Homo sapiens: one gene and its partner. The protein of the gene in region 1 interacts with the protein of each later gene in a pairwise test. Each region holds a gene or a part of one and is shown on either strand. Other genes may lie near its edges.

The links. The genes of interacting proteins can lie anywhere in the genome.
Region 2: the proteins of SAMD4B (region 1) and USP53 interact in binary tests that used the Homo sapiens proteins (3 or more experiments, as listed by UniProt).

The regions. Positions count from the first base shown.
Region 1 is NC_000019.10:39,366,391-39,373,421, reverse strand, and holds part of SAMD4B (protein Smaug homolog 2), read right to left. Parts: intron 4,261-7,031; exon of another isoform or gene 3,974-4,260; intron 3,768-3,973; coding exon 3,297-3,767; intron 1-3,296.
Region 2 is NC_000004.12:119,285,699-119,292,729, forward strand, and holds part of USP53 (ubiquitin carboxyl-terminal hydrolase 53), read left to right. Parts: intron 1-5,466; coding exon 5,467-5,563; intron 5,564-6,639; coding exon 6,640-7,031. UniProt on the Homo sapiens protein: Deubiquitinase that mediates 'Lys-63'-linked deubiquitination of tight junction proteins, such as MARVELD2 and LSR, and which is involved in the survival of auditory hair cells and hearing.

The DNA of each region.
Region 1 (7,031 bases):
GGCAGCCCAGTCCAATTACTTCTGCAATCCCATGATCAGGCACAGGGCATGACACACAGAAGTCCTTCCAACGAAGTTTCATAAAGGACAAAAGGGTGCTAAGAGGGCCTCTGAGCTCCACCTATGGCATCCAGAAGTACCCCAAGTCAGCCTAGACAAAAAGAAATGAAACAAAGCCAACGAGCCTCACCCTGGGTAGGTGAGGACATCAAGGCCCAGGGAGCTGAAGCCCTTTGCCCCAGTTCCCACGGGAGTTGACAGGCTGAGACAGAGCCCAAGCCTTGTTTCTGATGGAAAGGCTGGGGTTCCTGCCAGTGCTACAGTGACACCCAGCCCAGGAAGGAGGGCTAGCCTGGTGCAGGCCCCAGAGCATCTTCCCTCAGCTGTGACAATACTAATGCTCCTGGCTAGGAAGTCACCTAAGGGACAGGGCAAGGCAGTGGCCCACCCTTAATACCAGTTTCTGCCCTACCCCAGAGTGTCCAGGGTCCTCTTCCCAGGAGTTCTTCAGCCTCTAGACTCCCTCAGCCCTGGCTTCTGTCCCCACTCAGCACTCTTGGGGAACATGGCACACTCTGGGCCCTGGGGGACTGGGGAATCCTCAAGACAGGCCTTTTTGCCTGTTTTGGTGTCTCTGGCCTCCTTCTTTCTCCCTTCTCAGCCAAGAAGTAGGCAGGAGAGGCTGAGAGGCAGGAAATTACCCTGACTGGAATGATCGTGCAGTTCCTGAGGAGCCCTGCTTGGCTCCGCACTGGGGTGGAGGCTGGCCACAGCATGAGAATGACAAAAACAAGAATGCCGGCCAGAGATCCAGGGCCTTGCACTCTCCAAGAAATCCTGATCTGTTCTTGGCAGCACCCCAAACCCAAGCTGCCTGCCCTCAAAGGCCAATCCTTGCTCCCCACTCAAAAATATTTTAATGATTTCCTGTTTCCTGCAACTGCCTGGAATCCAAAAGCTTCTCCTGTCCTTCAACGCCCCCCAGAATGTAGCCTTCACACACTGAGGTCTGAGGGTAAAGACAGGCCTGAGTTCAAATCCTGACTCTGACTCTGTCGCCTCTGTGTGATCTTGGGCAAGTCACTTCATTCACCTCTCTGCCTCCATTTCTGCATGAAGTCCTTAGCAGAGGGATAGGCACACGGTAAGCACAAGTCTCTGCTACTGTTATTACTCATTCGAATCCACCCCAGCCAGATCTGTCTGTATACTGTCCCCTCTAATTATCCACCCCGTGCTTATTTCATGCTGTGCCTTCTACTTGGAATGCCCAATTCCTTTTCCTCTTTTGGTCCAAACCCCTATCAACATTGTTCAATCTTCATCCTTTAATGGCTGCTGGGGTACCCATGATGGGGAGCACAAAAGGTATGAAGACAAAGAAATTTATAGGCACCCTGCCTGGGTGACCCCTCCCCTTGGTGAGGGATGAGCATCTCCAGGAGAGGTACTTTTTGGTGGAGGTAGTGTAGCATAGTAGTTCAGAGTATGAAGTCTATAGTCAGAATGCCTGGCTTTAAACCTTGAGTTTATATGTATAAAGTTCTTAGAATAGCTCCTAGTAAAGACTAAGCACTCGATGTGTGTTTTTGTTTTTTTTTTTTTGAGATGGGGTCTCGCTCTGTTGCCCTGGCTGGAATGCAATGGCAAGATCTCGGCTCACTGCCACCTCCACCTCCTGGGTTCAAGCGACCTTCCTGCCTCAGCCCCCCGAGTAACTGGAATTATAGGCATGCACCACCATACCCAGCTAATTTTTATATTTTTAGTAGAGATGAGGTTTCACCATGTTGGTCAGGCTGGTCTCGAACTCCTGACCTCAGGTGATCTGCCTGCCTCGGCCTCCCAAAGTGCTGGGATTACAGGCGTGAGCCACCATGCCCGGACTAGCACTCAATATTTTTTGCCTAGAATGATCATTATTAATACATCCTCCCATCCTGGAACTGTGATGCTCCATGACTGGAAAATGAGGTCCAAGACACCTCAGGTTGCTAAGTTTCCTGAAACTGCCCTTCTATCCCTCTATCTTCCCAGGTTCTCACCAGCAACTGGGAGGGAGGCAGATGGACCAGAATAGCCACACTAACTGGGGGAAAAACAGGCTCAAGGAATAACTGATGAGCACCAGGTACCAGACAGCGGGGCATTAGGGACCCGAGGTTACCCCCACCCACTGACACATGTGACATTTCACTGTCACTCTCTCTTGTCTTGCTTTAAACCAGTGCCTGCTGAAGGTGACTAGCTACTCTGAGGTTTACATCATGAACCCTCTCCCTCACCCTGGGTCAGGTCATGCTGCCTTACCATGGCTTGGAAAATCCACCCTCCCTTATCCTGTGCATTTCAAAAAGTCACTGGGATACCAACAACTTCTGCTCACTCCCGCCTGCAGGGCTTTTACTAAGAGAGCTCTTTCAAACCTGCTTAGTTGGCAGGACAGTGTAGTGGTCAGAGGCAGGCTCTGCCATCAGACTGGTTGGGTCTGTTCCACCACTTGTTCTACGTGTGACTTTGAACACATCACTTCACCTCTGAGTCCCGATGTCCTCATCTGTTGAATAGGGCTAATGATACGGTTGTGATGCGGACTGAGATCATACCTGAAAAGTGTCTATAAAAGAGTACCTAGCATAGTCAATGCTGAAAAATGCTACCTACTATTACAAATACCTTGCAGCATGAGTTTTGTCTTATACAGACAGTGTTCTCAGAAACAAAGCTGTAAAGTGAGGCCAGATACATAAAATCCATAATGTTGTCTGAACTGGAAGGGATCTCAGATGATGGTATGCACACCTCCATCAAGCGTCATAGCCTGATGCCCTTAGAGGCCAGGTATATATCAGAAATGCCCAAAGGGGGGTTGGTGGGAGCAGAGGCAGACTAGGGCACTTGTGCAGGGTCTAAAGGGCATGCTCAACATTAAGCTCTATATTATTGCTGCCACTAGGAAAACAGATCTTGTTGAGTTGCTAGATCTTTTGACTTCTCAAGAAAGGCTGGAAATCTCATTTTTAGGGAAAAATTCTTGATTCTTTGTACCACTCACATTTATTTAAAAACCCAACACAACAAAATAAAACCAAACCAAAGTATGGGTTCAATAAGACATGTCTGTAGGTCAGATTCAGCTCTGGGAAAGCCAGTTCACAGCCTCTGCATTGCCTCATAAAGTTGAGGCCTACAGCTTATGTGACTTGTCTAATGCCACAGAGCGAGAGAGCTCTCACTGAGCCTAGTCCAACCTTTTTCAAGTAGGCATGGCCTTCTGGGACACCCCCGCCACTTACCTGTGTTTGCATTGCTCCCAATACTGTTGATGGCTGGCGGCACTGAGCTGGATGGGTGGAAGGGCACGTGTCCATTTTCCCGGGGTGGCTTGTCCTGCCAGCCTGGCCCTGCCTCCCCAGGGCCTAGCTCTGCAGGGCCCCCCCACTCATCTGAGCCTTGACGTGAATGGTAGGAGGGCTCTGGCCGGGAGCGGAAGCCACTAGCCAACCGCTCTTCCAGGTGGCTCAGCCAGAGGGCCAGTGCGTTGCGGTCCTCCAGTGTGGTGGCTGGGTGGATGAGGGCATAGGAAAGCAGCTGGCGACTCTCCTCGATGAAAGCATTGCTCTCGATTGAGTAGGCCAGCACTTTCTGCAGTAGCCTCATGTACTCCGACTTGGCCTCTGTGTTGCCTGGCTGAAGCAGGGGAAGGTGGGACAGCAGGAGGGACACCACCTTCTCTTTGGACTCCTGCTGCCACTGGCTGACGATGGCTACAGAAGGGATAAGAAGAAATATCAGGAGAGCCAGGGTGGGGTACTCCTATTCACCTGAGAGCACTGCCTATGGCCTATTCCCTCAGCTCCAATCTTCTTTTCATAACGATTTTCTTTTCATAACTCCCAAACTTATCCCTCATATAGGTGAGATCAAACACACTGACCCTGCCTCTGGAGTAATTTTTGTCTTATTTTTTTTAAGAGATGGGGTCTCACTATGTTGCCCAGGCTGCAGTGCAGTGGCTATTCACAAGTGCAATCCCACTATTGATCAGCACGGGAGTTTTGACCTGCTCCATTTCCAAACTGGGCCAGTTCACCCCTCCTTAGGCAACCTGGTGGTCCCCCACTCCTAGGAGGTCACCATACTGGGGCCACACTTAGTGCAGACACCCAATCAGCATAGCACACTATAGCCCAGAACTCCTGGACTCAGGCAATCCTCTTGCCTCAGCCTCCCAAGTAGCTGGTACTACAGTCATGTGCCCACCACAGCTGGTGTAGAGTAATTTTTCTTTGTTCTATCACTCCTGTTCTCAGAAACCTGCAGTGCCTCCCAATCAGCCAAACTTGCTACTCTGGAATCTGAACAACTCCTGTCCCCAGGCCTGCTCTCATGCTTTATCTCCATGACTCCTTCCTCCATTCTTCATGGCCTCTATGCCATTTCCCCTGCCAAAAAGCAGTCTCCTTCCTGAATGGAGAAGGCAGTGGTATATGGTAGTTAAAAGCTTGGGCTCTGGAATCAGATGGTCTAGACACCCCAGCTTACTAGCTAGATCTTGGTAAGCTACCTTGAACCTCATGGAGCACTAAATTATCTGCGAAATTTTGGAGATAATTACAGTACCCAATTCACAGTGTTGCTTTGAGATTCAATGAGCTAGCAAAGAACACAAAGTGGTTTGGCGACATAATAAATGCTTGCTATTGTTTTTTAACTGGTCTCTCTGCTTCTAGATTCTCCCCTTCCAATCGATCCCATACATCCAGATGCATTTATCTTCCTAAATCACAACAGGATGTCATGTTCCTGACCAGGAGTTTATAATGGCAACCAGCAAGCACCAACAGACTCAAGTCCAAGAACTCCTAGCCTAACATCACCTTCATTTCCAGGGCACCCTCCATCTCCCATTCCTCCAGATAAAGACTCAGCTCAGGATATCTCCCCATCTTCCTTGGGGTTCTCTCCACAGTATGTATTTATCCAAGCTCCACACCTTGGCTGAGATTCAAGGTTTTGGCCCGCAACAACCTCCTTCCTCCTATACAAATTCTCTTTTGTAGATGGCCTAACTTACTACCTTCCTCCAGGAAGCATTCCCTGGCTGTTCCATGTCATGGTCATCTTGACCTCTCCTTTCTATCCCACTGTGTGAGGACCTGAGTCTACCCTGTGGAGATAAGCCAGGTTTCCCTTTTCTTTTTTTTTGAGGCGGAGTCTCGCTCTGTCGCCCAGGCTGGAGTGCAGTGGCGCGATCTTGGCTCACTGCAAGCTCCACCTTCTGAGTTCATGCCATTCTACTGCCTCAGCCTCCCGAGTAGCTGGGACTACAGGCGCCCACCACCACGCCCAGCTTATTTTTTGTATTTTTAGTAGAGACAGGGTTTCACCGCATTAGCCAAGATGGTCTCGATCTCCTGACCTCGTGATCCACCCGCCTCAGCCTCCCAAAGTGCTGGGATTACAGGCGTGAGCCACTGCGCCCGGCCTCAGGTTTCCCCTTTCAACCCACAAGGGAGGTCCCTAAGAATATGGCCCCAGGCTGGCCACATCAAAGAAGGCTTGGGTAGGAACTGTTACAAGTCTGACTCTCCCCCTCAAAGACCTTATTAGCACTGGGCGTGGTGGCTCACGCCTGTAATCCCAGCACTCTGGGAGGCTGAGGCAGGTGGATCACCTGAGGTCAGGAGCTGGAGACCAGCCTGGCCGACATGGTGAAAGCCTGTCTCTACTAAAAATACAAAAATTAACCGGGCATGGTGGTGGATGCCTGTAATTCCAGCTACTTGGGAGGCTGAGGCAGGAGAATCACTTGAACTCGGGAGGTGGAGGTTGCAGTGAGCCGAGATCGCGCCACTGCACTCCAGCCTGGGGGCAAAGTGAGACTCCGTCTCAAAAAAAAAAAAAAAAAAAAGAAAAAGAAAAAAAAAACCTCATTAGCACTTCTGTGACTAGCTAAACAGGGTGGAAGATGGAGATAATGCTGACAGGACAAGGAGAGGGACAAAAAATACCAATACTTGGGAAAAGAGACAAAGATTTAGGTCTGAGGCCAACTACGCTCTCACCCTTGGGCAACTGAGCTCACATCTGTAGCCAAGGTGATGACTTACAAATATCTCACAAAGGAGTTCTGAGAGATGTGCTAATGGTGAGGTCTTGGAAATGGGCAAAGGAGCTGGCTCTAACCAGACAGAGCTAGGACCCCAAAGGAGTGGGTGATGAAAAGGAATAGGCAGAGATGTGGCATATGTCCCTTTACCACCACTTACTGGCCATGTGACTCTGGGCAAGTGTGATCACTTCACTGAGCTCTATTTTCTCTATCTGTAAAGTGGAGCCCAGAATCATTCCTACCTGGCATGGCTGCTATGAATTATGTGAGGCCACAGCATAGAGTAAGTCCTCAGTAAACACTAGCTGCTTTTACTAGTATTGTGGTTATTATATCTCACTGTGTCTCCCTCCTTTCAGATACACACAGAGATTCTAAAGGCACAAGCCAAATCTCTGGGCCCAGGAAACCAAGAGGCTAGGAATAAGCACCTATAAGGAAAGTCTTGGAAACCTAGACATCTGAGGGTCTTTCAACCCAAGTTCCTTAGGCCTTTACGATTCCAAGGACATCTAGCATGCTTCAGGATTGACTTAAAAAAAAAGTTCCATGGACTTCTGGTCTCCTCTGCCCACACTGAAGGATGGACACCTGGCCTTGCATACAAACTCAGAAATGCCCTGTCTGTAGCCCTATTTCTCTTAATGATCCCCTTAGAACTCTGTGGCCTAGAATTCACATACACTCCTAATTCTGCTTAAGTTTGTAGCCTTAGGAAAATGAATCTCACACAGTTCCTAACTCCTGGCTATAAAGACTGTGCATTTTCTTGGCCTGGGGCTCTTTGCTCTAAGCTTCCAAGAGAGAACACCTGTTTGTTAGTTTTTGTTTTCTATTTTTCTGAGATGGAGTCTCGCTCTATTGCCCAGGCTGGAGTGCAGTGATCTCAGCTCACTGCAACCTCCGCCTCCGGGTT
Region 2 (7,031 bases), on another chromosome or scaffold:
GGCAAACTACCAAGTTTGTTCATTTAAGATAAATACATTAGAAAGTATATTTAGAGAAGTACTTTTGTCAGCCGATTTTTTTTCTATGCATTTTAAACATTTTTTCTCTAAGAATTTCACAAACTGGTAACACATAATCTCTTCTCTTGCTGTGGCCTACCCAGGACCACCAAATGGCTACCTATGTACTTTTTTAAAACTAAACTTCTGGGATTGAAATTTGCTTTGTAGCAAAATAGCAATATTTGCTTTTCCTTTAAATTATAATCCAAGTGCAAAAAGCATTTATTGACTCCTGCTTTATTATTTTGTAAAATCCCCAAATTTAGGTTTCAGATAGTATAGATTATTACTACATATTAAAGTATCTCTCTACTCCTTTTAGTATGTAGTAAATTTATCCATAAATATTTATCTAGTTAAAGTTTTCTGATTTTTCTAAAATATTCAAATTTATTTCAAATGTATTTTTATTGTAAATTCAGTCATTGATTTGATTATTGCTGTTTAATGTTTAGGGTTTGTAAATATATATATATGTCTATTTTAAACATAGGTCTTTTTTTTAGATGAAATATATATTTTGATTTCTTGAATACTCTGCTTTGGGTTTTTTTGTATACAGAATCAAAATGGGCATTATTAAAGTTTCTTGCCTTGATACTGAGTTTTTTTTTTCTGTGTCAAAGCGTTAAAATTGGACTTAGATTTGCGAATAACCTGGAGCCAAAATTCCTCACAAAGACACATGGATGTCTATGTCAGCAGAAGAGAAAAATAACATATCTATTTTTAAGTTAGTTGGAATTCTGAAGTCAAACCACTTGGTTGAATGCCTGCCACAGTGATATTAAAATTTCAAACATGCTCATAAAACCTATGCTGCCTCCTGCTGCCCATTGTGTGAATAATTTATAAAAGTAAAGAATTACTTAAGAACTAAATATTTACTTGTTTCTTGTTTGTGAATATTAAACTTGAAATTATGAATTGGTGAATAAATTATGAATTGGCTAATAATATGAAGTTAAAAATCACACTGGGTAGCAAATTACATTTCAACTTAAAAATTAAGCTGTGAACATTGACAAATTATTGAAGTTCTTTTTGACATCTTATTTCTTGTCACATCTTTTTTTAATCATAAAATAGCTGTTGAAAAGATTGGCAAAGTTTTCGAGCCTCAGGCAGTGTGTCAGGCTTACCCACAGTGATTTTCTTAAACATGAAAAATAATATATTCCTTCTAGAGAGACTCTGGGATAAATTTTACTGCTTTTTAAAAGTGTTATGAGTATAGCACTTATAGACTTAAGTGGGAGGGAAAGATAAGATTTGTCTCAATTCATACTTAACTTGTCTTGCACCACTGAGTTGGGAACATGATGGGCAGGGTGGAGGTGACTTAAAAGAAGTAAAACTGTGTTTTTGAGGCAATTGTTTATTCTGCAGACCTTCATTTGAATGTCTTTTGTATGCTAGATACTGTGTTAACTTCTGGGCAAATTTTTTTTTTTAAAGGCACGTATATAATCAGAGCGCTTACAGCAATTTAGTGGAAGTAAACGTGTTAAATCTTAAATGAATGCCAGATTTATAGTTCCTCTCATTCTACCATCTTAAGTTTTTATTATTTACTATATGGAGCGATGTTGGCATAGAGGGTATTAAATTCTCATGTATATTACATGACTCTTTCTTGGAAATTGCTTCCAAGATTTAACTTGCAGAGCCTGATCATAATCAAATATAGATTATTTTTCCCCTATAGGGCAATACCTAAAAAATATCTAAGATAAAGAACACTTATTGTTTAAAAAATAAAATCACTGCTTTAATAACTTTGTTTTCTTTGCAGTCTTCATAGATTTGGTGTACAGTAAAGTAGAAACAGGAGAATGAGAGGAAAATGAGATAAATGAACATGATGAAAATGTCAACTAAAAATACGGGAGAATGCAGAAAAACTTACTAGAAATGTTACAGAAGTGTAGACGATTAATTGACAGTTCATGCTAATGCCATATATTTTGCTATCTTCTATGGGCATCAGCATGTTATTTGATGTTCACACTAGTGGCCTAGTTTCATCAGAAGGAGATTTAGTATAATGTCTTTGTATGTTAATGGCATAGTGCAGTGGCATGAGCACTAGCTTTGGAGTGAACCCTGGATTGGTTTAAATGCTCCTACTTACCAGATATATAGAATATAGATTAGGTCACTTAACTTCACTGAGCCTAAGTTTCCTCAAGTGTAAAAAGGGGAATTGTTTCACAGAACAGTTGTGACTGATGTTTTAAAAGACAACTATTACCAACTAGAACAGTAGTTGTCAAACTTTTGGGCCTCAGATATCTTTATAATCTTAGAAAAGGATTTATGACCTAAAAGAGCTTTTGTTATGGTTATGTCTTATATAGGTTATGTCTTATATAGGTTATGTCTATCAACATTTGCTAGATTAGGCACTAAAACTGAAACTTTCAAAATATTTATTCATTTAAAGAAATAAACCCAGTACATGCTAACACAAATAACATTTTTAAATGAAAATTAACTATTGAAAACAAAAATTTAGTGAGATGAATGGCATTGTTTTATGCTTTCAAATCTCAGTTAATGCTTGGCTTCATGTAAGATGGCTGGATTCTTGTTTTTGCATCAGACTGTTGTGATGTTTTCATGTATGAAGAAAGCCCATTTACACACAGATAATACAGTTGGAAATAGGAATATTTTAATAGCTTTTCCTAAAAATTGTGGATATTATTCTTTGACACTACACCAAGTAGTAGTTTCTTTAATGCAGTGTGAAATCTGAAACCATAGTATTTAACTTTTCGTCCTCCATTACATTAAAATACATCAGTCTGTCTTGCACTTTGAATGGATACTTTACTCATGCATGATTTTGTAACATCCATGTAGGGTCATTTAAAAAATACTGGTTTGCAGCCGGGCACGGTGGCTGACACCTGTAATCCCAGCACTTTGGGAGGCCGACGCTGGCGGATCACCTGAGGTTTGGAGTTCGAGACCAGCCTGACCAATATGAAGAAACCCCGTCTCTACTAAAAATATAAAAAATTAGCCAGGCGTGGTGGCGCATGCCTGAAATCCCAGCTACTCAGGAGGCTGAGGCAGGACAATTGCTTGAGCCTGGGAGGCGGAGGTTGCAGTGAGCCGAGATCGTGCCATTGCACTACAGCCTGGGCAACAAGAGCGAAACTCTGTCTCAAAAAAAAAAAAAAAAAAAAAATACTGGTTTGCTGAGTTATGCAGGGCTTCCAAGTGTTGATACATTTCACTAATATCTTTCTAAAAACTATTTTTGTTACTATCACCATAGATACTAGCAGAAAGTCTTTATAAGTATTGGGAAGTTGCAAAACTTGTGGTGGATACAAGTTTTCTTCAAACAGGTGTCATGCTTAGTATTACCACAGCAAAAGTGCTTTATGCATATTTCCCATTTCCTCATATAGAATAACAAAAAGATGTGCAAATGAAGTAAATTAATAAAATAATTGTTACTGTTTCATCAAGCATTCTTTAAGTAAAACTGGCTTAAAAAACACAAGTATATGGCAATGAAGAATACAATTAGTACAGTTTAGTGTTACTGCCTTGAATTATGCTAACATTTTTACCCATTATTGTTTTTGCGTCATCAGTGTAAATGGCAACACAGTCAAAAAGTAAAGTAACATCTTAATATTATCATGAAAATAGTTTGACTTCATAGACCCTCTGAAAGGGTCTCGGAGACCTCCCGGGGTCCAAGGCCACACTTCGAGAATTGCTGAACAAGCATAATCTTAAGACTTGGTACATATTGGGTATTCCATAAACTGTAGCTATCATTATTGTGGTGGTACATGACTAAAATAATTTTATACAGTTTTCTGCTTCTCATTTCTACGATAAGTGGGTGATGATGTTCACAAAGTAATTAAAGATACTTTTGTGCTTTGTTGATACATTGGTGGTTGTGACTTTTCTATCAGTATATTGGTGCCCCAGGACCCTTGTGCCTTAGTAAAGGAAAAAGCTCCCTGTAGACCTTCAGGTTCTCAGATATAAAGCACTTGTTCTCCCATAAGGGGGAATCAAAAACTGAGATGGTGTTAGGTAAACTCCTGTACAAATCCAAATGTCTTAGTTCCCTTTTCTTCATCTCTACCTTTTAAAATAATTTTTAGTTTTCAGGGTTTTGTTTGTTCAGTTGGGCCTACTTTATCTGTAGTCTGGACATTAATTTAATTTAATTGTATTAAAGATTAGAGGGCAATAGTCATTTTTATTAGAGCTGTTTTAGTTAAGGTCATGTTTTGTAGAGAGAAATCCAAATGTAGATAATGTTTTACTCTGAACATTAATATTGTTAAAGGCTCTCCAGTGAATTCTCCTAGAATCGTTGTTCAGAGGGAAATAGACCTGCTGTATTTTATGTGGTGCCATATTGACCTTTAGGTTCTAATCAATAGCTAGCTATAATTAGAGAGAGAGAAAAAATGATTAATTTGGTATCTGAAATCTCATGTAGCAGGCTTGGAAGACACTTGGAAGTAACAAAAGTCACACTGTAAATTAGTATAACTTTTTTCATAAGACTTCATTAAAATTAAATTAAAAAACTATTTGGTGCCTATTAAATGTCAGAACCAGGAGAGAAGTTAAGTATCAATTATTAGGAAGCATTATGGCATCATGGTTAAGAGCACGGACTTTTGAGTCATAAAGATCTAATTCTGTAGTATATCGATATATATACTTAACCTTTCTAAGCCACTGTTTTCTCATCTGTAACATCAAGTTGCTAGTCATTTCTTTATAAGGTTATTGTAAAGATTAAATGAAATATCCACTTCTCACAACTTGAGTAAGCAGTCAATAAATGGTAGCTAATTAGTAGTGGTATATTTTATATGCTATCATAATAACCTCCTACCAATTTTAATTCAGTTTAAATTCCTAATATTCCCATGAGGTAGGTAAAATGGATTATCATTATCCCATTATATAAGTGAGGGAACTGAGATTTTAAGAGGTTAAAAGGCTTGTTTACCTACCCATAATTAGTGAGTCCAAACTTCAACTCAAGCCAGCGATCTTCAAATGCAGGGTTTTTTTCACTGTTAACACTTGGTCAGTAAAGATCTTGTCTTAAGTAACAGGGAAAACACATACACAGATCTGCATGACCCAGCAGGAACAGCACTATTCCATCATGGATGACACCCTCAAGTGATAATAAACTGAAGAAATTTTGCATAAAGCATTCCAAAAAGAACTGTTATTTTGAGTTGGGTCTTAAAGAATTCATTTTTTTAAATTGGAAGAGATTACCTTTTATAGAAAGCTTTATGTAAATATAGAAAAGTATAAATGAAATAAATTCTGTAACATAATTTAAATAATTTTGTTTTCCTCATCTCTTCTCCCCACCCCACCCAACCCTAGGCTTTAGAAAAGAACTCAGGAATTTGGAAGCAGGCTATAAATCTCATGAATTCCACCCAGAATCACATTTACAAATAAAAAATCATTTGATAAAAAGGTAACCATATTTTTTTTCCCTAAATACATGTATTATAGGCACGTTGTTTATCAGAAGGGCATAAATACATATTATTACTTTGAAAGCAATGGGTCTATAGTATTGAGATGCCTTTCTTATTGGGAATCATTAATACAATGTGGATCTAAGGATAGAGAGCTTACAAAGTACCAGGTACAGTATCTGATTGTCTGTTTCAATCCTCACAGCATTCTTATGAGGTAGGTGATATTTTACAAGAGAAAATTTGAAGCTTAGGTTAAGTAATGTGACCAAAACTATCGAGCTGAGATTTGATTATAGCTCCATCTACCTAGCAAATCCTCAACTCTCTTTAACCATTGCATTCTAATTCAATTCCACATAATTCATATAAGAAAAATAATTTGCAATATGGCATCATTTACCCTCACCTTAGAAAATAACTATTACCTAAAGATAATCTTGATTACATTATTTTAAACTATTATACAGCCAGGTGTGATGTGGTGGTACATGTCTGTAATCCTAGCTACTGAGGAGGCTGAGGCAGCAGGATCACTTGAGGCCAGTTTAAAGCCAGCCTAGGCAACATAGCAAGACCCTCAAATATAATATAAATATATTTGCAAAATATAATAAAGTAATTAATATACTATACTGCTATATATCAAAATTTAAGTACTTCTACCTCTATTGCCTTTAAAGTTTGGAATGTTGGTGGGGAGATGTTTTAGAGTACTGTTTGACTGTTAACACTTTCCTCAAGTTCTATATATTGTTACAAATAAATGTAATTTTAGTGTTTTGAGTTGAAGTGAGTTTTTAAAATTATATTTCTAATTATTAGAAATGGGATTCTGGTAATGATGGGTGTTTCTGGTAAACACTCACATATTCTGACATAAAGAGTTTGGATTTGGAGAGAGTTGAAAATGTTAATGGTTGCAAATATCTTTCCATTTTTGTGGTTTTGTTGTAAAAATAATATAAACTGTATTTTGGGAAAATCAAACTACAAAACAAATGTTTATTTTCCCCTAGTTTCATATATTTGCATAGGGTGTTCTAGCTTTGTTTTTATTTTCATATTTCAGATCACATGTACATGAAGACAATGGAAAGTTATTTCCTTCATCCAGTCTACAAATACCCAAGGACCATAATGCAAGAGAACATATCCACCAGTCAGATGAACAGAAACTTGAAAAACCGAATGAATGCAAATTTTCTGAGTGGCTTAATATAGAAAATTCTGAGAGAACAGGTTTGCCTTTTCACGTTGATAACTCTGCTTCTGGGAAGAGAGTGAACAGTAATGAACCATCTTCATTATGGTCTTCACACCTAAGAACTGTTGGGTTAAAGCCAGAAACTGCTCCTCTCATCCAGCAACAAAATATCATGGATCAATGTTACTTTGAGAACTCTCTATCCACAGAATGTATAATTCGGTCAGCCAGCAGATCTGATGGGTGTCAGATGCCAA